Homo sapiens: one gene and its partners. The protein of the gene in region 6 purifies or fractionates together with the protein of the main gene of each other region. This does not show direct contact. Each region holds a gene or a part of one and is shown on either strand. Other genes may lie near its edges.

The links.
Region 1: the proteins of PRPH2 (region 6) and CPNE9 purify together in Homo sapiens (affinity purification with mass spectrometry; one large-scale study listed by BioGRID and IntAct). This does not show direct contact.
Region 2: the proteins of PRPH2 (region 6) and POTEE purify together in Homo sapiens (affinity purification with mass spectrometry; one large-scale study listed by BioGRID and IntAct). This does not show direct contact.
Region 3: the proteins of PRPH2 (region 6) and TNFRSF10B purify together in Homo sapiens (affinity purification with mass spectrometry; one large-scale study listed by BioGRID and IntAct). This does not show direct contact.
Region 4: the proteins of PRPH2 (region 6) and RAB9B purify together in Homo sapiens (affinity purification with mass spectrometry; one large-scale study listed by BioGRID and IntAct). This does not show direct contact.
Region 5: the proteins of PRPH2 (region 6) and NCAM1 purify together in Homo sapiens (affinity purification with mass spectrometry; one large-scale study listed by BioGRID and IntAct). This does not show direct contact.
Region 7: the proteins of PRPH2 (region 6) and PCYT1A purify together in Homo sapiens (affinity purification with mass spectrometry; one large-scale study listed by BioGRID and IntAct). This does not show direct contact.

What each region holds. Positions count from the first base shown.
Region 1 is NC_000003.12:9,710,333-9,713,832, reverse strand, and holds part of CPNE9 (copine-9), read right to left. Parts: intron 1,293-3,500; coding exon 1,229-1,292; intron 1,109-1,228; coding exon 1,005-1,108; intron 859-1,004; coding exon 754-858; intron 1-753. UniProt on the Homo sapiens protein: Probable calcium-dependent phospholipid-binding protein that may play a role in calcium-mediated intracellular processes. Plays a role in dendrite formation by melanocytes.
Region 2 is NC_000002.12:131,261,536-131,265,778, reverse strand, and holds the end of POTEE (POTE ankyrin domain family member E), read right to left. Parts: intron 4,054-4,243; coding exon 3,933-4,053; intron 2,425-3,932; coding exon 1,096-2,424; 3' UTR 501-1,095; downstream 1-500.
Region 3 is NC_000008.11:23,062,532-23,066,031, forward strand, and holds part of TNFRSF10B (tumor necrosis factor receptor superfamily member 10B isoform 1 precursor), read right to left. Parts: intron 1-3,500. UniProt on the Homo sapiens protein: Receptor for the cytotoxic ligand TNFSF10/TRAIL. The adapter molecule FADD recruits caspase-8 to the activated receptor.
Region 4 is NC_000023.11:103,825,758-103,829,257, forward strand, and holds part of RAB9B (ras-related protein Rab-9B), read right to left. Parts: intron 1,322-3,500; 5' UTR 1,248-1,321; intron 70-1,247; 5' UTR 28-69; coding exon 1-27. UniProt on the Homo sapiens protein: The small GTPases Rab are key regulators of intracellular membrane trafficking, from the formation of transport vesicles to their fusion with membranes.
Region 5 is NC_000011.10:112,967,920-112,971,419, reverse strand, and holds part of NCAM1 (neural cell adhesion molecule 1 isoform 2 precursor), read right to left. Parts: intron 1-3,500.
Region 6 is NC_000006.12:42,719,798-42,723,866, reverse strand, and holds the start of PRPH2 (peripherin-2), read left to right. Parts: upstream 1-1,269; 5' UTR 1,270-1,532; coding exon 1,533-2,113; intron 2,114-4,069.
Region 7 is NC_000003.12:196,246,227-196,249,726, forward strand, and holds part of PCYT1A (choline-phosphate cytidylyltransferase A), read right to left. Parts: intron 2,098-3,500; coding exon 1,981-2,097; intron 1,293-1,980; coding exon 1,141-1,292; intron 1-1,140. UniProt on the Homo sapiens protein: Catalyzes the key rate-limiting step in the CDP-choline pathway for phosphatidylcholine biosynthesis.

The DNA of each region.
Region 1 (3,500 bases), on a different chromosome or scaffold from region 6:
CCCAAAGTGCTGGGATTACATGTGTGAGCCACCGCGCCCGGCCCCTACCATCTGTCTTTATACTACCCATTTACTCATTCATTTGGTTGGCCTATCCATCTAATTTATACCCATCCATCAACTAATTCACCTACAAATCCATCCGTTCATCCATTTGCCATCTATTCATCTATCCAACCATCAATCCACTTGTCACTCTACCTATCTTTTTGTATTCCACCTGCTTTTCTATTCATCCTCCTGCCTCCCCAGTCATCCATCAAACTCTCATTTACCAATTTATCACCCACCCATCCATCAGCTCATTCATCCGTTAATCACCCATCACCTGTATATCCACAAACCCACCCATCAGTCCAATTATCCATTCTTCTGCTGTCCATTCATTTATCTGCCCCTCTACCCACCCATCAATTCACTCATATATCCATCCACATACATATCCAACCATTCACCAGTTTACCCATCCAACGATCCATCCATGTATCTGCTTATTCATTTGTTCATCTGCCTTTTCATCTACCCATCCACCTACCATTCCATCCATCAGTCGATCCATCCCTGGATAGTCCACCTATCCATCTGTGTGGCTATCCATCTGCCTGTCCATCCACCCAACCTCATGCCCCAAACTCTGTCTCACTGAGCAGGACCCTCCAACGCTATTATGATACTTCTACTATCATTCTTGGGCCCAGGAACCACACTGGCATGTCCTTGGCTCCTTACTCCCCAGCTTATGCTGGAGCCAACCTGTCATAGTCTCCATTGCACAGAGCCCGCACAGGGATGCTGAAGGGCTGCCACACAGGATTCAGCGTGTTTTTCACAACCTCTGTCTTGTGGCAGATGGTGAACCTGGAGGGGAGTGGGAAGAATTGGTATAATTTATCTCGTGCCCGGGGTAGGACTGAATCCAGATGCTCTCAGAGATTCCTGAGATTCCCCCACTTGTTAAGCACATGGCCCACCCCAGCCTAACAGCCCTGATGGCAGTGACTCACGTGCCATCCTCATTGCTCCTGTAGAACACAAGGAAGGGGTCTGATTTCCCAAAGAAGTCCTTCTTGTCCAGCTTGTTTGCACACAGCTGCATGGTGGCAATGTCCTAGGGATGGATGAAGTTGGGCTGGTGGCACCCCAATTGTCCATAGCCTTCAGACAGTCCATTAAAGGGTTTACGGGGAGAGAAGGGAGCTCCTGGGTCTAGCATGTGGCCCTTACTGACCCGACAATTGCTAAGCTCTTCTGCAGTCAGCAATATGGTCCCACACTTCTTGCCTGGTACACCCCTGGAAGCAGAAAAAGCCTCTTAGTGAGAGGAGGGAGGGTAGGCAACAAGGATTGAGTGGCCAGTCTGGGGTTAGGTGGGCCAGGGGATTCAGTTTGCCATTTACTGACAGTCCCTTGTGTCTTGAGTGCCTTCTGGTGAGGAAGGGCCTCACTTTGACTGGGTGGGGTCTGCAGTCTGGTGAAAAGGGGTTAGAACAGCTTAGGTGAACATCTCACAACAGTAGCATGAGAAAGACATGGGATTTAGAGCCAGTGGATTTTATGATTGTTAAGCTGTGTGACCCTGGGCAAGTTATTTACCCTTCCTCGGCCTTAGTCTTTTTCTCTATGAAATGGGAATCATGATGACTTGTCAGGGCTGTGAACAGATCTGAATGAGTGCATGGAAGGAAAAGCAACTCGTAAGCCTTATAGATATGAGCTGGTTGTAGTCTTCAAAGCTGACTCTGGTTCTTACTATATGCTGGGTGCTGTGATAGATATGAATTGGGCAACTGGCTCTCTCCGGCTCTGCTAGACTGCCCGCAGGGAGCTTTGGGGGCGGGGGTAGGTGGAATGTCAATGCCAATAGGTAAGTAGAGTGGATTGTAGTGATACTGAATGAGGGAGAAGAATTTCTGTCCAGACCCAGGGACAAAAGGGCTAGCTTGTTAGGTCAAAGCTGATGTGCTTTCTGAAGACCATGGAGAGGGAGATTTAAAAGACAAGGGAAACTTTATCCTTTCCTGACCCTAGAAGGAACACTTCCATGTGCTTGAATGGTGCATACGAGAACCCCCATCCCCAGCAGTAAGAGACCTTGTTGATAGGGGCCTGTGAACCCTGATTCCCAAAGGGATCCAAAATGTGGCAGAGAGAAAACTAGGTCAGGAGGGTCCTGGGTTCCAGTCCTGGCTCTAACTTGCTATGTGATTTTCCCTATCCTTAGAATGAGAGTTGAACTATTTCTTTGGCTCCTTTGATCTTTGACTCTTTGTGCTTTGCAAAGAGGGAGTGTGATGAGAATAGGTTCTATTCGCCTACGGCTGGGCGCGATGGCTCACGCCTATAATCCCAGCACTTTGGGAGGCCTAGGCGGGCGGATCACCTGAGGTCGGGAGCTCGAGACCAGCCTGACCAACATGGTGAAACCCCATCTCTTCTAAAACTGCAAAAAAAAAAAAGAAAAAATTAGCTGGGCGTGGTGGCGGGCGCCTGTAATGCCAGCTACTCGGGAGGCTGAGGGAGGAGAATCGCTTGAACCCGGGAAGCAGAGTTTGCAGTGAGCTGAGATCAAGCCCTTGCACTCCAGCCTGGGTGACAGAGTAAGACTCTGTCTCAAAAAAATAAATAAATAATTCGCTTGCACATCCAGGACCAACAAATTGTTGATCCTGTTGCCTCCTCACTGTTCTTTGCCTCTTTGATGTTCTCCCTTACCACCTCATCCATCCAGTGTGAATTCCAGTCAGTGATTATAATAATCATTCCCTTGCATCCTGTCTCTTTTTTCCCTTCTCTCACTTTTTTTTAAGAGTTGGGGTCTCACTATTACCCAGGCTGGAGTACAGTGGCACAATCATAGCTCACTGCAGCCTCAAATTCCTGGACTCAAGAGATCCTCCCACATCAGCCTCTCAAGTAGCCGAGACTACAAGTGCACACACTACACCTGGCTAATTTTAAAATTTTTACTTTTTTAGAGACAAGGTCTGGCTATGTTACCCAGACTGGTCTTGAACTCCTGGCCTCAAGAGATCCTCCTGCCTCAGCCTCCCAAAGTGCTTTGATTACAGGCGTGAGCCACTGGCCCAATCTTTTCTCTCACTTTCGATATATTTACTTGGCAGAACCACAGCTCTAGTTAAGCCTCACTCTGCCTAACCCACACTGCACCTGTGAAACTGAACATGGCCAGACAAAAACACAATTATGCGAACTTGTCTCATTTCAAATGCATGATGCAGACTTCAAGAGGGTCCTTATTGCTACCTCAGAGTCATACTGTACATCCCAAGGCCCTTCACTCTCCAGTTCTGGTAGATGGCAGTTTCACTCCTTCTTTCTCCTCAACCCCTAAAGCCTCCTCCCCCATCCTCATTCTCAGCCAATGACCTTGTTTCCTACTCACTGAACAAAATTGAAGCAACCAGAAGAGAATGTCCACCCACCACCACACCTACCTTGCCACCAGTATCTTCACCCACACAAGTGTGACTCCTACAGTT
Region 2 (4,243 bases), on a different chromosome or scaffold from region 6:
AAGCAGTCTGGCCATGATTTGGTAAAGCAGCTATGCTGTGCTGTGGGATCTCTTCTGTCCCTCGTCGGTTTGTACTCTCCAAAGCCCGCAGGCTGGAATGACTAAGTTGCCTGAACGGGAAAGATGGCGGCCTGCCCCGTCTTTTCTCTCAGAGTTTTATCTTGTTTCGTGGAGCTTAATTTTTAGCCTGTTGATTTTACTGTCTACATTAGACTTGTTGAGAAAGAATCTGTTCTCTTTTAGGTGAGATAAATGAGAATTCATTGTCTTCTGTAAATAAACCTGTTCATGTCTTGTTCTCTGGAAAGAAGTCTCTTTCAGCTATCTGACTTTGGTCACAATCATGTAGAGCAGCAGCCAGTCTACAATGACGTAATTGAATTTCCATTTCCAGTGTTTCCTCGTTGTGTCTTACATTGTCCAGTTCAGAACTGAGCATTTTATTCTCAGTTGTCAACATGCTAAGCTGTCCACTGTACTGAAATACTGTGCTTCCTCAATTTTTTTTAAGGTGTGCACTTTTATCCAACTCTCCTCAAGTCAGAGTACAGGTAAGCCCTGGCTGCCTCCAGCCACTCTCAGGGAGACCAAAAGCCTTCATACACCCCAAGTTGGGGTACAAAAGAGGGGGGCCACGAAGGCTGATCATTCAAAATAAAACAAAATTAAAAAGTATTAAGGCGAAGATTCAAAAAATTTTGCATTATGTAATTTGCACAAAAGCAATGCTATCACCTCCCCTGTGTGAACTAGGGAGAGGACTGGGCCATTCTCCTTAGAGAGAAGTGGGATGGCTTTTAGCAGGGCAAGGGGCTTCCTGAAACAATGCGTCTCACAATATTTGGAATGACTATTGAAAAGAAGAACAATGTACAATCAAAGTCCTTGGCAACATTGTAGAACTTTGGAGGAAGCTTCCTCCAACCGACTGCTGTCACCTTCACCATTCCGGTTTTTAAATCCTGAGTCAAGCCAATAAAAAACAAAACAAAAAATGAAACAAGAAAACAAATAAAGCCATGCCAATCTCATGTTGTTTTCTGAGAAGTTTGGTTTTGTCAAGAAAGGGTGTAACGCAACTAAGTCAGAGTCCACCTAGAAGCATTTGCGGTGGACAATGGAGGGGCCTGACTCATCATACTCCTGCTTGCTGATCCACATCTGCTGGAAGGTGGACAGCGAGGCCAGGATGGAGCCACCGACCCACACGGAGTACTTGCGCTTGGGAGGAGCAATGATCCTGATCTTCATCATGCTAGGCGCCAGGGCAGCGATCTCCTTCTGCATTCTGTGGGCCATGCCAGGGTACATGGTGGTGCCGCCAGACAGCACTGTGTTGGTGTACAGGTCTTTGCGGATGTCCACATCAGACTTCATGATGGAGTTGAAGGTAGTTTCATGGATGCCACAGGATTCCATGCCCAGGAAGCAAGGCTGGAAGAGCGCCTCGGGGCAGCGGAACCGCTCGTTGCCGATGGTGATGACCTGGCCATCGGGCAGCTCGTAGCTCTTCTCTAGGGAGGAGCTGGAGGCCGCCGTGGCCATCTCCTGCTCGAAGTCCAGGGCAACATAGCACAGCTTCTCTTTGATGTCACGCACGATTTCCCGCTCGGCCATGGTGGTGAACCTATAGCCACGCTCGGTGAGGATCTTCATGAGGTAGTCAGGCAGTTCCCGCCCAGCCAGGTCTAGGCGCAGGGTGGCATGGGGGAGGGCATTCCCCTCATAGATGGGCACAGTGTGGGTGACCCCGTCACCAGAGTCCATCACGATGCCAGTAGTACGGCCAGAGGTGTACAGGGACGGCACGGCCTGGATGGCCACGTACATGGCTGGGGTGTTGAAGGTCTCAAACATGATCTGGGTCATCTTCTCGCGGTTGGCCTTGGGGTTCAGGGGGGCCTCGGTCAGCAGGATGGGGTGCTCCTCGGGAGCCACACGCAGCTCGTTGTAGAAGGTGTGGTGCCAGATCTTCTCCATGTCATCCCAGTTGGTGATGATGCCGTGTTCCATGGGGTACTTCAGGGTCAGGATGCCTCTCTTGCTCTGGGCCTCCTTGCCCACATAGGACTCTTTCTGATGCATGCCCCCCATCATGCCCTGCTGCCTGGGGCGCCCCACGATGGAAGGGAAGACAGCCCGGGGGGCATCGTCGCCCGCAAAGCCGGCCTTGCACATGCCAGAGCCGTTGTCAATGACGAGCACGGCGGTATCATCATCCATGGTGAGCTCATTCAATTGTAGAGCCTTTAAAAGATTATCATTCTTTTTTTTCACACTTTCAATATCCTCCAAATATTTCTTTTCTCTTAGCTGGCTCTGATGTTTCATTGTGTCTAGCTCCAGTCTTAGCATGGCAATTTCTTCCCGCAACGTACTATTTTCATGCAAGACGTCTTTTTCTTTCTTACAACTAAGAGAAAGCTAAGTAAACAAAGAGAACTTTTAGTTAGCACTCAATAGATTGACATATCATGATTTCTTCTGAAATTCAAAAATAACATGTATTTGTATAATGAAAGAATCCCCATAGTGGATATTTAACTGGAAAAAAATTGGACAAAACTTCAAACCTAATAAGAGTGTAAATTCCTCCAGTGATTTATTTTTCATCGTCTTTAAATAAATATTTAAACTTTTAGGAATCTGCTCCTAAATTCCTAAAAGTTTAAATATTTATTTAAAGACGATGAAAAATAAATCACTAGAGGATTTTTAAGAATCCCAGAATTAAAAAAGCCTTTTTCTGAGTTACAAAAAACCCAGAGGCATAAAATATAAGATTAATAATTTGACTACATTTTTAAGATTAGGTTTACACTCTGATATCTAACCTATCAACCACACCATCCTAAGAGCCTTAGCTATGCATATATTTGGACAGAAGCAATTTCTCAAAGTTCTTTAAGTTTCTTTTACTGAAGAACGTTTTACCGATATTCTACATTTCTAATATTTCTATACTCAGTTATAAGAATTACATTTATTTATAACTGTCAAATCTAAGCACTGTACCCTTCTACACTGTACACATCTGTATCTAGGCATTGCTCTTCTACATATAATACTGAACTCATTTAAGATCGCGATTCTTAAAAGGAGAGGTCAAAAAATATACACAGATGCAGGATTTTCCCCAGGTCTGCTGATGCTACTTCTAGTGATCCTCCACAAAACCACACTTACTTCTGTGGTGTAAATATATAAATACAAAAGAAACCTTTTGTTTCAAAATATGAATGGTAAATAAGATACAACTTATAGAGATCTTCTTAGAAATCATGAGATTATTTGCCATTGCGGTAACTTTTATTTCCTCTTTATAATGTTTGAAACAGTAGTAATGGTGAAATAGGGGAAATATACTGAACTATTTCTCCAGAAACAAAATACTTATCAATAAATTATTACTAAATGTGTATCATGGCATGTCATTGTTTTCAAACCTCTTTACACTGAAATGAGAAACTACTTGGAGCAAACTGTTCCTCTCTGCAAAAGTAAGGATAATGGTATCCACAATGTGGCCTCTGACCCAGCTATACATTTCCTACTTTCTTATCAGTAAAAATAATCAATTGACTTCTCTATTAACATTTTTTAAAAAACTAATGTCCAAAAACGAGAAAATCTGTTTTCAGTAGCAAAACTTATTTCTGATGTGGAAAGATCATCAATTCTTATGAAAAACATCAAATACTTCTCCTTTGGATTGAGGCCATTGTGCAGGTCACTACTCAACTGTTGCAGGCAAATGAAGGTGAATTAAGAACATGGCTTTATCCTATACGTACGTATATAGATATATGACAAAGGATATATAGAATATATACACACATATATATGACTTAAAAATCCTTTATATTTCCAAAATACAGTTCTTTAAAATATACACACATATAAAAACATTTGAAAATAACTAAAGAAAATACCTCAGAATTCATTTTTTCAACCACTTCTATCTGCTTTTCTTCATGAATCAGAATCTCATCGTGTAATATTCCAGTGTTCTGTTCTTCACAAAATTGCTTCTGAGTATCATTTTGTTCGTCACTAGAAGAAATTTTAATTTTCATGAAATACTGGAGCTGTCCCTAAAATGATGTACAGGGCAAGATGGCGCCATCAGATGTCATTCACACAATGCATATCTGCACATTATTCCAAGACAAGGCAAAGGGGTCTCACATCTGTTAACCAGGTGTCCCCAACCATGCTGGCACCAGGGACTGGTTTTGTGGAA
Region 3 (3,500 bases), on a different chromosome or scaffold from region 6:
ATTCTCTGTTTTATTTATTTCTCTTCTAATAATTATTTCCTTTATAATGCTAACTCTAGGTTTGGTTCATTCTTTTTCTAATTCCTACATTTGTAAACTTAGCTCGTTGATTTAAGATCCTTCTTCTTTTTTAATTAAACCATTTCTGGCTATAAATATCATAGATGGAATCAGATACTATATATGCTTTTCTGTCTGGTTTCTTTAACTCAGCATAATTATTTTGAAATTCGGTCATATTTTCATATGCATCAGTACTCCATTCCTTTTCATTACTGAGTTGTATGGCAGAATTAATATGGTAATATTATAAAATGTAGGAGACTTGAAATAATACAGATTGATTCATCTCCACTACTCATTCTTTCTGCTATAGTTGTCTCAGGCATGTTCATATGTTACAAACCCTACAAAGTGTTATATTACTTGATAGTGAATATTTTCAAGAAATTAAGAGGAAATAATCATTCTTTATATGTGCATTCATATTTCTATTCCTGATGATCTTCCTTCTTTCCTTAAGATCCATGTTCCCAGCCAGGCAAGGTGGCTCATGCCTGTAATCCCAGCACTTTGGGAGGCCAAGGCGGTGGATCTCCTGAGGTCAGTAGTTTGAGACTGGCCTGGCCAACATGGTGAAACCCGGTCTCTACTAAAAATACAAAAATTAGCTGGGTGTGGTGGCAAGCGCCTGTAATCCCAGCTGTTCAGGAGGCTGAGGCAGGAGAATCGCTTGAACCCAGGAGGCAGAGGTTGCAGTGAGCCGAGATTGCGCCATTGCACTCCAGCCTGGGCAGCAACAGTGAAACTGTCTCAAAAAAAAAAAAAAAAATCCATGTTTCCATTTCATTTCATCTCTATTCAGATTGAAATCTTTTAGCATTTTGTGTACTGCAGGTCTATGAGCAATGACGTGCCCATACTGTCTCCAATAGCACATTCAGGTTCCTAATTCTTAAAGCCATTTATGCCCATTTACTCTTTCTTATTTGGTAATGACCTCACCCAAGTCTCAGATTAGAAACACTAGAATCCACCACAAACCTCTTTCCTCTTCTTACCAAACCCATTGCATCACCGGCCTGCGTTATCATCATTTCCCTCAGATCTGCCTCAGCTGCCACTTGCCTCCTTCACGATAATGCAACCTGACCCTCACCCTAACCACTAGGACCCATCCCGAATGCTGTCCAGGCCACACCTGAGTGCACCCACCTAGTCCACTCTCCACTGGGTGAACAATGATCTTTAATGGGTGGATCTGATGAGGGATGTCCCCGGGGAAAACTTGACAATGGCCTTGGTGACTCTGGACTTGGGTGATCCTCCGTACTCTATTCAGATCCTCTGTTCTGTCCTCAGCCTGCCTGCCACACTCCCCACCTCTCACGTTTAACACACTCTATGAGCAGGCTGAGGACACAACGTCTGGGTTAGTGCAGCTTCCTAGAATCCACGTTACTCATTCATTCATTCATGGAAGGCATGTAGGCGCCTGGCGACCGCATATGCAAGGAGCCGTGGAGTATCGGGAACATGGCACGGCCCTTCCTTTCCTTAGCACAGTTTCCATTCACAGGAGCTGAGGCACAGCCATCATTAACCCCAAAGTCCATGAACTTGCAAAGAGTCTGGAGGGGCTGCCCAGGCAGAGGTGACAAATGCCATCGGTGGCAGGGACAGTAGTGGACATAGAGGAAAGAGTGCACACAGACAGAATCCCAGACAGACAGGAATCCAGTGTAATGGGGGAGGGGAGTAAAAACAAGAGAGGTACTGCTGAATTAATATTGTAATATGATTACAAAATGTAGGAGAGTTGAAATAATATAGATCCATTCATCACCATTCACTCTTTCTGCTGTGCAGGACGAGGCTGTGCCGTCCGTGGGCCTCTCTGATTGAGGGAGAATGGGCGTGTGGCCAGAGATGCACAGCTGTGTTGGGCCACAGAAATGGGCTCATGGGGGTGTCCATGGGCATGGTTAAGAGAGAGAAGGAAAACAAGAAGAAGGGAGGTCAGGGGTTTGGCTTATTTCAGTTCTTGTCCCATTGAATTCTAGGGACCCTGCCTCCTCCCGGACATGAGCCATTGGCGGGGTTTCCCTGTCTTGTGACTCACCCACCTGTGATTCAGGCTCCTTGCTTTACACCAAGTTTGAGCATAAAACCTGCTAATATTTCTCGTCAAAAATTAACCCGAGTAACCTCTTCTTTCCTCTCTGAGTCACCCACATCCTTAAAACTGCCCAGGATAATCACAGTTCCTGCATAGGTTGTTGTGTGAACTGAAAGTGTTAATATGTATGGAAAGTGCTTAAAACACAGAACTTTAAACACATGCTCTGATTAGTACGATCATTACCCTCAATGTTGATTTTAAGCAAACCATATTATCCTGGCCAAACTACCATGACCTGGAGCCTTGGGACTGCACAGCCTCCCTCTGTCAGTCAAATATGGAGGGATGACATCTCTGGAGCCAGCACAGCCACTCTGGAGGTGGGGGAGGTGACAGTGGTGGGACCTCATGCTTCCTGATAGTTATTTAGGTCCCTGCTGTCACCTGCTCCACCAGACTGTGGGCTCCAGGGAGTAGTCAGTATTCACACAGGGCTCATTTGTCCTTCCCCAACCCAGGCACAGATTTTCCCAGAGTAAAGGGTTCCTCCTCTACCTGATGAATGAATCACTCCTGTCCCCGCCGCCAAGCACATGCAGTGAGACTAGCTGTGGCCTCAGCTCACTGCGTAAGGACAGCCTCCAGCTACAGCAGGGGCAGAGGACCCTGTAGAGCTCTGTAGTCTCTGTTGAGAACCACAGGCAGGAACTCCCAGAGGCCAAGTGCAGGGCAGAGACTGGGAGAAGCAGCTGCCTGGAGGACTCTGGATCCTTGCAGAAGACATGTCCAGTGTCTGCTGAGACTGACTCTAGGTGCCTGAGAAGAAGCCACCCAGGGAAGGAGAGACTAGATTGTGGACCACTCAGGGCTGGGAGATCTGCATGTTCCCCTTCCCACAGTGGACAGAACGCATGCCAGGGTGCTGGCGAGTTACCATCAGAAGTCAACCACTATAACTTTAGTAGTTAACTAAATGAGCCCCTGAATAAGGCAACTGAACACAAGGTATATAGTTATATGTAGATAAAAGCTAGTATCAGAGGAGCAAACTGATCCTCAGTTTTCTGTGACCAGAATAATGCCCAATAGACTTTGAAAGAACACAGTGATGTTCGGTACCCAAGAAAGCAAAATTCACAATGTCAAGCAATAAGAAATTACTATGCATGAAAAAAAAAGTCCCTATGGGCAGGAAAAAAAATGTAATCAACAGAAACAGTGGCCGTAATAACAGATATAATGGTGTTGATAGATTAAATAACTTAAAACAGGTCATCTAAAGCTTACAAATATACTCAAGAATATTTAAAAAACAGAAAAACAAAAAACACCACCACCAAAATCATAGGTTGCGCACGGTGGCTCAGGCCTGTAATCC
Region 4 (3,500 bases), on a different chromosome or scaffold from region 6:
CTTTAAGAGCAGGGATTTCCCACTCATTTTTGCAGCACCAGAAGGGAAGGAGTTTGTAACCAAGAGAACCTGAAAATAAAAGGAAAAGTAGGAGGGAAAACAGTTAAACCTGAAACTGAAATCAACTTCATAGCAAATTTCTCTGAATTATAAGGCCTTCTCATTCAACTTCTCTGATTTATGCTCATTAATTGATGTAGTACAGCAGAAGAAATAACACTAATTTTGCATAAGGGGAAAAATAGGTCTTGTTTTTCTGAGGTCTTTTGTTGTGCCAGGAAAATGGCTGAGTGCCATGGGTAAATGGACTAGCAGATGGTCCTGTAATTTGGTTCAGTTCTGACCCAATTCTAGGAGAGGAAGCCTAGAACAGGAATGCCACTCAAATGTGTGACAACTTTAGCTTCCGGTTTGGACAGTTCCAAACAATAGACAAATAGTATGAAATTGACTTGGGGTTTGAAGTCTGCTCCTGATGGATACAAAAATTACTGAGAAGAGAAAGCTACATAAACTGGATTCTTGATTCTGTCGGTAGAGGTCTGGGCCAGAATTAGACTGCACCCCAGAATTTGAAAGAGAGAACAAGGTTACGTTTCTTCAGGCATTTACCCCATTATACTTGCATTGATAGGAACACCCTCTCAAGTAAGGATCTTCTATATTTTTTTCTTCATGGAACAATGGCATTTAAGTTGATGACAATTGACTGATATCAATATAACAGCTGTCATGAAGGAAGGAAATCTTGAATAGCTTATTAGTTTTTGGATTCAGGTTTTAATTCCATAATAGCAACATTTGAAAACATACTGCAAAATTTAAAGTGCTAATATTTATACAGTACCCTACTTGTTACCTCCACAACATGTCTACACATGGAACACCTAGAATGTGTCTTAAAATAAAAAGATCAAATGCTTACTGAACAAATACTACCTTTTCCTATATTCTGTTAGGTACTTTCCCACTAGGTCTATTGTGGGAACTCAACGGTGATGAGGTTAATTGGATGATATTTATACAATAGACCCAAAGGGATGAAAACGAATCACTAATCGAAGGAGTGCATGCAAAACAGTTTCTGGAAGCACACACATTTGAATATAATTTTACAAAATTTAGTAGCCCTTAAAATGATTTTGGAATGCCTATGTACTAGCTATATATTTTTCTAAATATTCATTTTTAAGAGATCAAATATTAAAATATCCCAAATCCACAGTGTGCCCCCTTGAAATACCTACCCAGTGGGTTTTTGTCACAATTTAAATATTTTCCTTTTTTTCCTGTTGTTGTTTTATTCTTTCTTTTTAGGGTGCTATAAAACAGAATAGAAAACATTATTTTAAAAAAATCTATAATAAAATAACGTTAAGGCTCTATATAAAAATATATTCAAGTCAGAAAAAAAAAAAGAACCCACAGCAACCTCAAGTAACCTACAGAGGGTGCTTTTCAAAAATAAAAGTTCAAAATGCTACCTATGCTTAACATAAGCAAAATAATTTTATTCCAAGAACTTTAACTTATCCTAATTTGTAATTTATATAATTTTTTACATTTTATATTGTCTCTCAATTGAATTCTCCATTCAAAGTAAAAGCAAATTAAAGAAAGATGATATTCACAATAGATGACATTCAGGAAAAGGAAAGTACAGAGCAATCTAAGATATGCTGAAATCCTAAGTCGGAGATGAAACTTCTTCCTTTTATACCTACCAACGTTCCCATCTCCAAGAAAGTTGTTAGTGCACTCACCAGTCTGTCTCAAGGTTGTCTCTGCAATTGATTCCACATAATTAGAGAGCAGAAAAAAATTGTGTTTGTGGGCTTCCTGTTTACAATAAAGTATATTATCTTGGCTAATTATTTTATTAATTAGTTTAGGTCATTTTTCTTTTCTTTATTTATTTTTTAAATTTGAGACAAGGTCTCATTCTGTCACCCAGGCTGGAGTGCAGTGGTGCAGTCATGGCTCACTGCAGCCTCGACCTCCTGGGCTCAAGTAATCTTCCCACCTCAGCCTTCTGAGTAGCTGGGACTACGGGCATGCACCACCATGCCCGGCTAAGTTTTGTAGTTTTTGTAGAGATGGGGTTTCACCATGTTGCCCAGGTTGGTTTCAAACTCCTGGGTTCAAACGATCTGCCCACCTCATGTTCCCAAAGTGCTGGGTTCACAGGCGTGAGCCGCTGTACCTGGCAGTTCATCTGTCTTAAACACCAGTTTTAATATTTAGCTGGTGTTATTAAATTTAAATATACATTCATCTAATATTATAATTAATTATGGCAAGAATCTTATTTAAGCAGCATCAAGAGTACTGGTTTAAGAAGAAAAACAGTGCCTAGATCTGTGTAGTGTTATTTCTTACTGAGGAAGAACGAAGCTTTAAAAAAAAATCTGCTGCTTAATAATCACATGTTATTTTCTAAATATAGATAAAACTTATAATAAGGATTCATTAGATATCTAAATCAGTAATTATGAATTTAAATAATATCTCCTAAATGGATAGGCTTTATCCTCCTTCTTGGTTTATATACACTCTACAGAATTCTCAAGTTTCCTACAATTCCTAATTTTTGTCCTCTTTTTCCTGCTCCCAAATTGCTGTCTTTGGAATTAGCTCAAGTAACAAACATTTCTTTAAATGGAGATGAAACAAGTGTTAGCACACTTTTTTATTTTTTTATACTGGTCTGTAGGATAATTTTACAGAGCAAAACTCTTGAACTCTCATTTTGAAAAGCAACAGAAGTACAAACTTGGGCATGATTCTGATGGCTAGTATTAAGCGTCCAGGCCACACAAGCTTCCTTGAGTTCCTAGCAAACAGGCGTTCACATCATTAAAAGACTCACTGACCCTATTCTCCCAGTTGCAGATAAACTCAATAGACAGGTCAAGGACTGAGTGAATATGGAAACCAAATGCTCAGCTCCAGGAATAATGATGATGTATTAATAACTGTCTGAGATAATGCTGCAGTTGCTTGTGCATTCCCTATTTGGTTATGTGCACACATAACTTCTGGGCCTATAGGCTCTATGCCAAGGGAAAAAGAGGAAAAGCAATGTGGTTCAGTGTCAAGAGCACTGAGCTAGCTGGCAGTAATCAGGACACCAGGGTCTTCATCACTGTTACACCATTCATTTATTTTATGAACTTGGGCAGGTCATTTAATCTTTCTGTTTCAGTATCTTCTTACATAAAAATAGAGCAGATAATACCTGCCCTACTTAACAGGATTTTGGGGGAGAATGAAAAGCTTATGAAGTTTGCAAAGATTTGTAAGCATTTTTTGAAAAATTTGGTTTGAGATTTTTATTCCTCTGGCTCCTCCACCTCCTTTCATGCACTGGTGGGGGCCTTGTGGCTCAGTATTAACCCTTCTCAGAAAGGGCCTGCTAGTGAAAGTATAAGAATTCTTCCTTTTCTCTTTCTTCCATATTTGAGAATGCCTTGTTCCTCAACAAGCTTGAACATCTGCAT
Region 5 (3,500 bases), on a different chromosome or scaffold from region 6:
ATACCTTCTGACGTACTCTTACTCCACTACAGACTGCTTCACCCTCTCTTTGATCCCACATTCTTCCTTCGATGACAGTAGCTTCCAAACTCTTTTGACCTGAGCCAAAAGAATGTATTTTCCATTACAACCAAGTTACATATTACACAGAGAGAGAGAGAGAGAGACAGAGACAGAGAGAGAGAGAGAGAGAAATTGAAGTACTCAAAGCAGTACTTACCCTTATATAAAACACACTCTCTTTTTCCACTTCTTCCCTCCTTCTCTCCCTCCTTCCTCCCCTTTTTCCTTCCTCTCTTACTTCTTTCTTAATATATATGGAAGCCCGTTAAACAGATTTCATCATCCATAGTTTGAAAAATACTGACCTACAAGTTAAGGTATTAGGAGGCCCAAACTTTTTCTAAAACCTAACCTGTCTCTTAATTTCTCCATCATATTTACAGTACCATGATTATTTAATTTCCTCGAGTTTGTAACTTCAAAGATCTTTCTCCCTCTCAGTCATCTACCATTTGGGATCTATCATCTACCCTTGGTTGCTTTGTTATTTCTAACATCTCAGCTATGCCCCCTTTATCCTTATCCAAAATCATTACAAGTGTATCTTTCCAAAATTTCCTGCTTTAGAAAATATATCATAGTTGGGTTTCTTTAATCAAACAAGCACCTCTAGCAGTACATAAAATTTGATTTTTATTTTTCAGCAACATGTCTACTAATAAAATGTATAGCTGTGAAATATTTCATTTACAATGCATTTCCCATATATTATCTTATTTTGTTCTTATATTCGATTGCGGAAGTTACAGTTCAAAGAGGTTACATAACTGATATAAATTCACTTGGCTAGTTAGTAGCAGAGCAACTTCTTGAACCCAGATCTTTCGAATCTAAGCCCAATGGTGTCCTTTCCCCGCATACAGGTGTTCCTACTGATTAAGCAAGATACTTTCATTGGACTTCACTAGCCTCCCTTCTCCTAGTATCATCTAGTTGATGTTTCATACAGCAATAAAAATCCCTTCGTTAGCCCTTCATTTTGTCCGACCACCATAGTGGATGCTATATAAAACCAGAATTCCCTTTTAGTGCTGCAATGAACTATATGAATTTGTTCCTACTTAACTCTCTGCTAATTCCCAGCTAGTCCCAAACATAGAGCCTGAGGCAGCACACGCTCAGTTGCTATTGTTAACTATCCTCTTAAACATATATATATATTTTTAATTTCTCTGTCATCTCCAGCAGGACTCCTCTCCTTTGTCTGACATTTAAGATTTAAATATGGCTTGCCCCAAGTTCCAGCCTTTAACTGCTCTTCAATAGCAATTCTTTGGCCAGATCCACCTCATCCTATAGGAAAACAGGCCCTCTCTCCCTATTTACCTTCATATCTGTGGAGGTCCAGGTCAGTTCTAGCTTTTCTATACCTCTTTTTTCCCCCAGACATTAAAACTAATAGACATGATTTTTGCCTCTCAATTTTCCCAGTTTTTACCTGCCTGCTTCATTCGGGCACTTACTGATATAATATCTTTCATGATTTCTTCGCAGCTTGAACTAAGCAAAAGTGCTTCCTCTCCAACCACCTGAAAGGGTCAGTATAGTAACCTTAAATTTATTTTGTTTTTCCTCTAAGCCTCTAGCACAGAACTTTGCACATCATATTCAGAGTACTGTACACCTTTTTAAACAAACATTTCAAATAAAATATCTGACCACAGGGAACTTTTTTAAAGCACATAATGAGTACATACTTTATATCTGCTTTACATATGTGGTTTTATTTCAGCTCACCAAGACCCACAAGGGAAGTGTCATTAACCCCATTTTACAGATGGGGAAACAGGCTCAGAACGACAGCAACTTGCAGAATGGCAGGACGGTTCCTTCAGACCACAGCTCTGAATAGTGCCCTTCCTCCCCATCACTCCTCCCACACTTTGGTCAGACTCAGTCCAGAAGCCACAGGAATTCCTGTTTGCTTGGCATGTATTCAGATGCTATATATATTCAAATTATCCTTGCCTTAGAAAAGGATAAAATTCAGACAACGAACGTAAGTTGCAGTCCCAGCTCCACCTGCCTAAGTCATTTAACCTTTCTCAGTCTCAGTTTCCATTTAAAGACTTACAATCTGGACTTGCAGAATTTTTTTTTCTCCTTATCTCTGGCTACTCCTCCCCACTACTCTCACACTGTTCCCCATGTACAACCAGATTCAGATCTCAACCACTGCTCAGGGTGTCTGCTCTGCCCAGATCACCCCTTCTTCCTGCTCCATCTAATGAAAGCAATTCTTCCCCAAGCCCAGCTCGAGGGAGTCCCAGGCAGAATTAATTGCTTCCTTTCTTGTGGCCCAACAGCATTTACTTCATGCCTCTGTTTATAAGTATAGTATGTCTGTCTCCCCTCCTTCCAGGTGGTAAGCTCTAAAGGCAGATGTATTATTTTCCTGGACTTCATAACGTGAAACTCCACACGATTCCTGAAGCTATCTGACCTTCTCCAGACTTCACAAAGGTTTGTTGAGTTAAGGAATTCAGGAATGTTTGTTGTAATTCAATGTTTGTTGAATTAAGTAGTCAATCAACCATGCCCTAAAATGAGAATACCATCTGTTCTTCCTATTTCACAGTTGTTTAAATGTTACATCTTCACCTCCCCAACCACCCAATCCCCCTTGATAATCTCTCATCCTGGGTTTTTCTTAGACTTGAATCTGAATATGTAATTATAAATGTATGTGTTACTTTTTAATGTCTATATTTCTCTGTACTACTAGACTGGAAACTCCATGAAAACAGGGACGATGTACGTTTAGTTCACCGCTGTATTCCCAGCACCCAGCACAGAGCACGTACTCAGTCAATATTTACTAAATAATTAGTGTGAAGATTAAGCACATATCAAAGTGTTTTGTAAACCATAACGTGATGATTAAGATATAATTATTGGTATTATATATCCAGTTTATCTCCTTTTAGATAGCTAAAACAAAATCTTCAGTCTCCTCTCCAATATCATATGCCTTTAGCTGGCAAAACTACTTCTTGCCCTGCCAATCGGGCACTTACATCTCACTCATTTGAATAATAATAGCAATTGCTTTATTTTCTTCTAGTTAGTAATTTACAAGAATATCGGCAGTGACAAATATCAAATCAGCTCAGATCTCATTTAAGATCTTCTGTCAAATAAAAGTGAAATACTTCTTTCTAAAAATGACTTTGACTTCAATATATGATTCTAATCTTCAAAGCACTACACATACAACCTCTATGAGGTCCACGTTTAATAAACTGGAACGATTAGTTTATATTCCCAAGCAAGTGGGTCCAAGTGGACCAAAGGATAGTTGCTAAAGAAGGACCAGAAGTTTTCAGGGTTCCTCAACTGCATGGACTCCTTCCAAGGCTCTGGGGGACTGGGACTTGGCAATGTGTTCTCATGGTCATGTATTCAACTAACCTTCGCAAAAGCAAGAAGAGTTTTGT
Region 6 (4,069 bases):
CCCAGACAATTTTTGTATTTTTAGTAGAGACAGGGTTTCACCATGTTGGCCAGGCTGGTCTTGAATGCCTGACCTCAAGTGATCCACCCACCTTGGCCTTCCAAACTGCTGGGATTACAGGTGTGAACCACTGTGCCCGGCCAAGTTTGGTATTTTATTGTTGTTTGGATTTGCATTTTCCTGCTTATTACCCAAGTTGAGATCTTTTCCAGATTATTGGACTTTTCAAGTTTCCTAATTATGAATTGTCTGTTCCTGGTTTTTGCCTATTTTTCCAGTTGATTATTGGTCTTTTGATTGTGAATTTTTGTTTATTGTGAATTTGTGAGACTTAAAACATTTTTGCATATTAATTCTTTTTTTTTTTTTTCCAGACAGAGTCTCACTGTCACCCAGGCTGGAGTGCAATGTGGGGATCTCAGTTCAGTGCAACCTCCACCTCCTGGGCTCAAGCGATCCACCTGCCTTGGCCTCCCAAAGTACTGGGATTACAGGCATAAGCCACCATGCCTGGCCACTGTATATTACTTTTTAATTTTACAAGTTGCAAATGTTTTCTCACGATCTGTCACTTTCTTTCTTTCCTTCCTTCTTCTCTTCTTTTCTTTGTCTTTTTAAAATTTGAGACAGGGCCTCACTCTGTCACCCAGGCTGGAGTGCAGTGGCACGATCATGGCTCAGTGCAGCCTTGAACTCCCCAGGCTCAGGTGATCTTGCCACCTCAGCCTCCAGAGTAGCTGGGAGAACTACAGGTGCATGCCACCATACCCAGCTAATTTTTTTTTTTTTTTTTTTGTGTGTGTGTGTGTGTGTGTGGAGATGGGGTCTTCCTATGTAGCCCAGGCTGGTCTTGAACTCCTGGGCTCAAGTGATCCACCCAACTTGGTCTCCCAAAGTGCTGGGATTATAGGCGTGATCCACTGTGCCTGGCCCTGTCATTTCTTTTCTCAGAGAGGATAACAATTTATTTGTCCTACAGAAAGTTTTAAATGTTGAAGGAGATTGGCCTGGAAATATGCTTTTGGGGAGCAACACGGTCTGAGCCAGACATCCAGATACAGCCCATTCTTCTGGCCAGTCTTGCCCTTTGCTCCTGATTCTCCAAGCTGTACCCAGAGCTTTCTGGTTCAGCATGTACCTGGAGGCTGCTTTTGACCATGTTTTGAGAGTGGCATGGCTTTATCTAATGGGATGAACCTGGCTAAAGAGATTAGCAAAATGTCTTGTGGATCCCACTTTTAATCTGCAGCGTTCAGGCTGCCCCTTCTTGGCTGGGAAGGGCGCTGAAGAAACAACGCCCAGGACCAGGACTATCCCCTGCTCAAGCTGTGATTCCGAGACCCCTGCCACCACTACTGCATTCACGGGGATCCCAGGCTAGTGGGACTCGACATGGGTAGCCCCCAGGGCAGCTCCCTACAGCTTGGGCCATCTGCACTTTTCCCAAGGCCCTAAGTCTCCGCCTCTGGGCTCGTTAAGGTTTGGGGTGGGAGCTGTGCTGTGGGAAGCAACCCGGACTACACTTGGCAAGCATGGCGCTACTGAAAGTCAAGTTTGACCAGAAGAAGCGGGTCAAGTTGGCCCAAGGGCTCTGGCTCATGAACTGGTTCTCCGTGTTGGCTGGCATCATCATCTTCAGCCTAGGACTGTTCCTGAAGATTGAACTCCGAAAGAGGAGCGATGTGATGAATAATTCTGAGAGCCATTTTGTGCCCAACTCATTGATAGGGATGGGGGTGCTATCCTGTGTCTTCAACTCGCTGGCTGGGAAGATCTGCTACGACGCCCTGGACCCAGCCAAGTATGCCAGATGGAAGCCCTGGCTGAAGCCGTACCTGGCTATCTGTGTTCTCTTCAACATCATCCTCTTCCTTGTGGCTCTCTGCTGCTTTCTGCTTCGGGGCTCGCTGGAGAACACCCTGGGCCAAGGGCTCAAGAACGGCATGAAGTACTACCGGGACACAGACACCCCTGGCAGGTGTTTCATGAAGAAGACCATCGACATGCTGCAGATCGAGTTCAAATGCTGCGGCAACAACGGTTTTCGGGACTGGTTTGAGATTCAGTGGATCAGCAATCGCTACCTGGACTTTTCCTCCAAAGAAGTCAAAGAGTGAGTGGCTTCCAGTCCTGGGGTCAGAGCTATGAATATATTGGGGACACTGAGGCTCAGGCCTCTGACCAGCCCCTCTCCCCGCACCCAGTGCCTTTTCCTCTCCATCGGGTGCACAACTTATTGCTGCGTATGTGAGGGTGTATCAGGTGGAACCATATGAAATTGCTAATATTCTACCTCTTTGACCCATAAAAAATGACAACTTCATAGGGTTCAACCTAACATTGGCTAAGGTGGTAGGAAGGTATCAATTTATATAAGCTGTTTGGATAGGAGCCCCTTGGGATGAAGAGCCAGGCAGCAATGTGTGTCCACTTTATACAGAGGGATGGAAGTCATTCATAGATCACAAACACTGAGGTACTATTTGGCTATTTGTCCCATTCATTCAAAGTAGATGGATTCAGTCCCAGAAGTTTAAATTTCCTAGTTAGTTCCCTTGTTTTCCAACCTTTCAACCCTGAGCATCCATTCCCAAGATGTTTGTCTGGATATGTTGGAAAGAGCATAGGAAGGGGAAGTCATGAGATCTAGGGTGAAGTTTTGGTTCTGTTGTTCAAGGTCTTGTGACCTTGGGCAGGTCACTAGTCACTCTGCGCTTTGGCTTGCCCATCTTTTAAATGAGCACTGGAATAGAATAGGTAATTTTGGAAGTCACCTCCTAGCCCTGCCTGGTAGCTGGCATGCAGCAGGTACTCATTAAATGCTTGCTGGTGTTTACTTAGCGAGTCATGATAGTGCAATGTGATAAAGCATTTCTAAAGTATTCTTGGCATATGTAAAAGTAAAATGCTGCGATGGGCTGTGGGAGGTGCTGGTGAGAGAGAGACTCTCGACCACTGTGTCGGAGGGAACAGCCTGTGCACTGGCTCCAGCGGGCTGCTCTTCCCAACACACCCACCAACCTGGGGCTCGAGTGACTTTTCAGGGAAAGGGCAGCCTGCCTTGAGGCAGCCGCTTTCCCTCACCTCTTCTTTCTGTCTGACTCGACCCTACCTGGCTGAGGTTAGGGGTTCAGTTATTCCTAAGGGTGGTTTTTTTTTCTTCCCAGTGAGGCTGGCAAGTCCAAAGGGAACTTGAACTCAGGGCATTGGCACCAGCAGCAGGACATGTTTGAAGCCCAAAACAACATTAATGACGCCCAAATAGCTAGCTTATATCTGCCCTGCAGATGGAAGGGACGTCCAAGTGAAGGTCACTTCTTGGGATTTTATTTTCTTGTGGATGGAGATTACTGCTGCAAATCCCCAGTCAGGAGAGGATTGTAAAGGGCTGTGCCCTTCCCAGGTGACAGGTCTGCAGGGGCAGCACAAGATGCCACGATTTACATAAATCTCCCGAGGAGGGCATGAAGCCAGGGGGACAAGCAGAATTCTGGGGAGTGGGAGAGGCCGATGGTAGAACCAGCCTCTGTGAGCAGAGGCTCACAGAGAAGGGGCTTTTCATCTTTTCCTCTATCATTTCCCTTGATTGTCTCCTGCATAGAGTCAGTTCTTGGACAGATGTATTCAAATCTCTCGGTAACTCCAAATCCCCTTTTGTATCAGAGTGAAGGAATTATCTAGGTCACTCCACTCTCAATGGTCAATGGATCCAAAATTTCAGGCAAATATTTAGCTGAATCAAAACTCCTTCAATGTCCCATACCAACTTGTTGGTGGGAAATTTTCCTAACTCCACTGACTTGGAAAAATTCTTCTATTACACGCACAAAAAATACAGCAGTAATATTAAAAGAAGCCAAAATAGGAAAACAAATTCAAGCTAGCTTCTCACCCATAACTTGATTAATGCCTTTAGTTTTTCTACATTTCAGTTTCAGTCTAGTCTTGTTAACATTTACATAATCATACAGTGTAATGATAGTATAAAGACAATTTAGGGCCGGGTGCGGTAGCTCACACCTGTAATCCCAGCACTTTGGGAGGCCGAGGCGGGCGGATCACCTGAGTT
Region 7 (3,500 bases), on a different chromosome or scaffold from region 6:
CACTTTGGCTGCCTTCATTCTTTCTGCCTCACTGAACAATTTACCTACAACATTCCACGCGCCCCTGTAGAGAACTGACAACATGCTTGCTATTTCCTCAGGCTTGGGGGCCTCTAACCTGGCCTAATCAATCCTTCTCATCTTTTGTACCCACCTTTTGCAGGAAACCTGTGGCTTTTTTTTTTTTAAAGTAGAGACAGGGTCTCGGTATGTTGCCCAGGCTGGTCTTGAGCTCCTGGGCTCAAGCGATCCTCCCACCTTGGCCTCCCAAAGTGCTTGGATTACAGGCGTGAGCCACTGCACCTGGCTGAAATCTGTTACTTTAATGTGGGAGAATTAAAAGGAGGTAAGGGGTTGATAATAACTTACTGAGAAACAGTGAGAAATATCCTTGATTTCTGATTCCACCCAATTTCTAGCATAAGATCAAAGCCCTGAAATGAAACTTAAGCCAAGAAAAGTCTATGTTAATCCGTCTTATTTCCTGGTAATGTGACCGTCTTCAGAGTTCACCTGGGGCTATGGATATTCTCAGGAGACTGGCATGTTCTAAGGGTAGATGTGCCTATGGTGTGGGGGGAAGGTCTCGTAACTGGTGAGTTCAGTTCCCAGCCCTGCCAGTGGTGTAACTTGTGGCGAGTTCAGTTCCCAGCCCTGCCAGTGGTGTAATTTGTGGCGAGTTCAGTTCCCAGCCCTGCCAGTGGTGTAACTTGTGGCGAGTTCAGTTCCCAGCCCTGCCAGTGGTGTAACTTGTGGCGAGTTCAGTTCCCAGCCCTGCCAGTGGTGTAACTTGTGGCGAGTTCAGTTCCCAGCCCTGCCAATGGTGTAACTTGGAGCAGGTTATTTGGTTTCTCTAGCCCTTGTTACTCATATGTAAAGCGGAAATGACAAACACACCACAGGATTGCTGTGGGCAGAAAATGGAATAGAATGGATGTAAAAGTGCTTGCAAACCATCCAGCCCCATATAAACGTCAGGGGTGACTGTTATCACTAGTAATATCACTGTCATCTCCTACGAAACTTACATAAGAGGTAGAAGTAAAACACGGCTAGTGGAAAACCAGCCTACGTGCCAGCAGCTTTGAGAGTTGAGGGGATTCTGAAACAAGGAATGGGAATATGTGTCCAGTTTCTTACCCGGTGTTCGGCCAGGAACTCGGGTGTCAGCGTCCAGGGCGCATTCCTCACCACCTCATCCACGTAGCGGCAGTGCTGGACTGCGTCATAGCGCTCATTCTCGTTCATCACCGTGAAGCCTTTGAAGTTGTGTGTGAGCTCATCACTGCAAACTGGTTCACCACATCATAAATTGTGTGTTGGAGTCCTCTTTGCTTAGCACCTCCTCAGCCACCGACCTCTCCCATCTTCTCCCACTGCTTAGGACTGCAACCATCTTCCCCAACTGGAAAAAAGTCTTCTAAAGGTGGTTGAACCTGGGTGATAACGCTTTTCCTAATGCAGCGTATACCTTCAGGAGCAACACTCACTAAACAGTATGTTCATACTTTGGAGAAGGGACAGTACAACAGGTGACCAAGATCTTTGACTCTGAAATAAACCTGCTGTGCGTGTCTGCATCAATTAAGTCCTTAAACATGTTTTCCTGTTTTATTCACACTGGACTGGACCACCTAACATTTCCTTGGCAGACTTTTGTACTCCAGTTAATTCAAAATGATAAACTGAAATCTAAAGCAAATGTTTTAAAGTGGACAACGGAAGTCACGGCTGCTCCTGTGACCACAGAAACTCAGCTACAAGCAGTGAATAAATGCCAGATGGCACAGTCGAGGAGCTTGAAGCTCCTCTCTCCAGGTTTAGTTTGCTGGTACCCATATACTTCATGTGTGTTAGAGAGGCTGTACTACATCCTTCATTTAAAAATGGAAACAAGAGCCAGTGTACTCAGCTGAGAAAGACAGACTGTACTATCATCTTTTTCTGCACAGCACCTGAAGTCACCAAATGTTTTCTTACCTCCCACAATGAGGTACGTATTAGGGAAAAGGTTCTTCGCTTGCATCAGAGCTCGGGCGTGACCAGAGTGAAATAAGTCAAATATTCCATCGGCATAAACTCTCACAGGTCGCTCACCTAAATCCAAATGAAAGAATTGATCACAAAAATACCTTTTTTTTTGTCATTTTTATTTTTATTTTTGAGGCCGAGTCTCACTCTGTCACCCAGGCTGGAGTGCAGTGGCGTGATCTCGGCTCACTGCAACTTCCGCCTCCTGGGTTCAAGTGATTCTCCTGCCTCAGCCTCCCAAGCAGCTGGGATTACAGGTGCATGTCATCACGCCTGCCTAATTTTTGTGTTTTTAGTAGAGATGGGGTTTTTCCTTGTTGGCCAGGCTGGTCTCGAATTCCTGGTCTCAAATGACCCGCCAGCCTCAGCCTCCCAAAGTGCTGGGATTACAGGTGTGAACCACCATGCCAAGCCACAAAAATACATTGATTCGATATCTTGTACTTGGCAAATGGAACTGGCTCTGTGTGACAGTTCCATGACTGTATACTCCTTTCTTTTTTTTTATTTTTTTCTTGAGACGGAATCTCGCTCCATCACCCAGACTGGAGTGCAGTGGCACGATCTCGGCTCACTACAACCTGCAACTCCCGGATTCAAGCGACTCTCCTGCCTCCGCCTCCTGAGTAGCTGGAACTACAGGCGCCCACCACCAAGCCCAGCTAATTTTTTGTATTATTTTTTAGTAGAGATGGGGTTTCACAGTGTTAGACAGGATGGTCTCGATCTCCTGACCTCGTGATCCACCCGCCTAAGCCTCCCAAAGTGCTGGGATTACAGGTGTGAGCAACCGCGCCCGGCCCAACTGCATACTCCTTTCTTTAGGTGTTCTCTGGGTATTCACCCTGATTTTAGGGGTAGGTTGGGTTATGAAAAATGACTATAAAGACCTTTTCATTTTTTTTTTGAGACAGGGTCTCACTCTGTCATCCAGCCTGGAGTGCACTGATGTGGTCACAGCTCACGGCAGCCTTGACCTCCTGGGCTCAAGTGATCCTCCCATCTCAGCCTCCCAAGTAGATGGGACCACAGATGGACACCACCATGCCCAGCTAATTTTTTTTTTTTTTTTTTGTAGAGACCATGTTGCCCAGGCTGGTCTCGAACTCCTGGACTCAAGCAATCCCACCTTGGCCTCCCAAAATGCTGGGATTCCAGGTGTGAGCCACCATGCTCAGCCTATAAAGAGATTTTTGACATCATCATCTGCACTAACTGCCTCTGTTAGCCTGGTTGTACCAAACTTTTCAGGCACAACAAATAACAGAGAACTGTCAACTTAGAAGCCAGGAAATGATTTCCCGGGGAACAAGACTAATTCCAAAGTGAAATAAACATTAAAAACAGAATCAGCATAATGGTCCATCATGCTTTAAATAATAAATCTAAGGAGTCCATGTAACTTATTCCCTTTCTGTGAATAAAGGAAGAGCTATTTTACTGCAGCAGAAACTGACAGGAGCATTTAC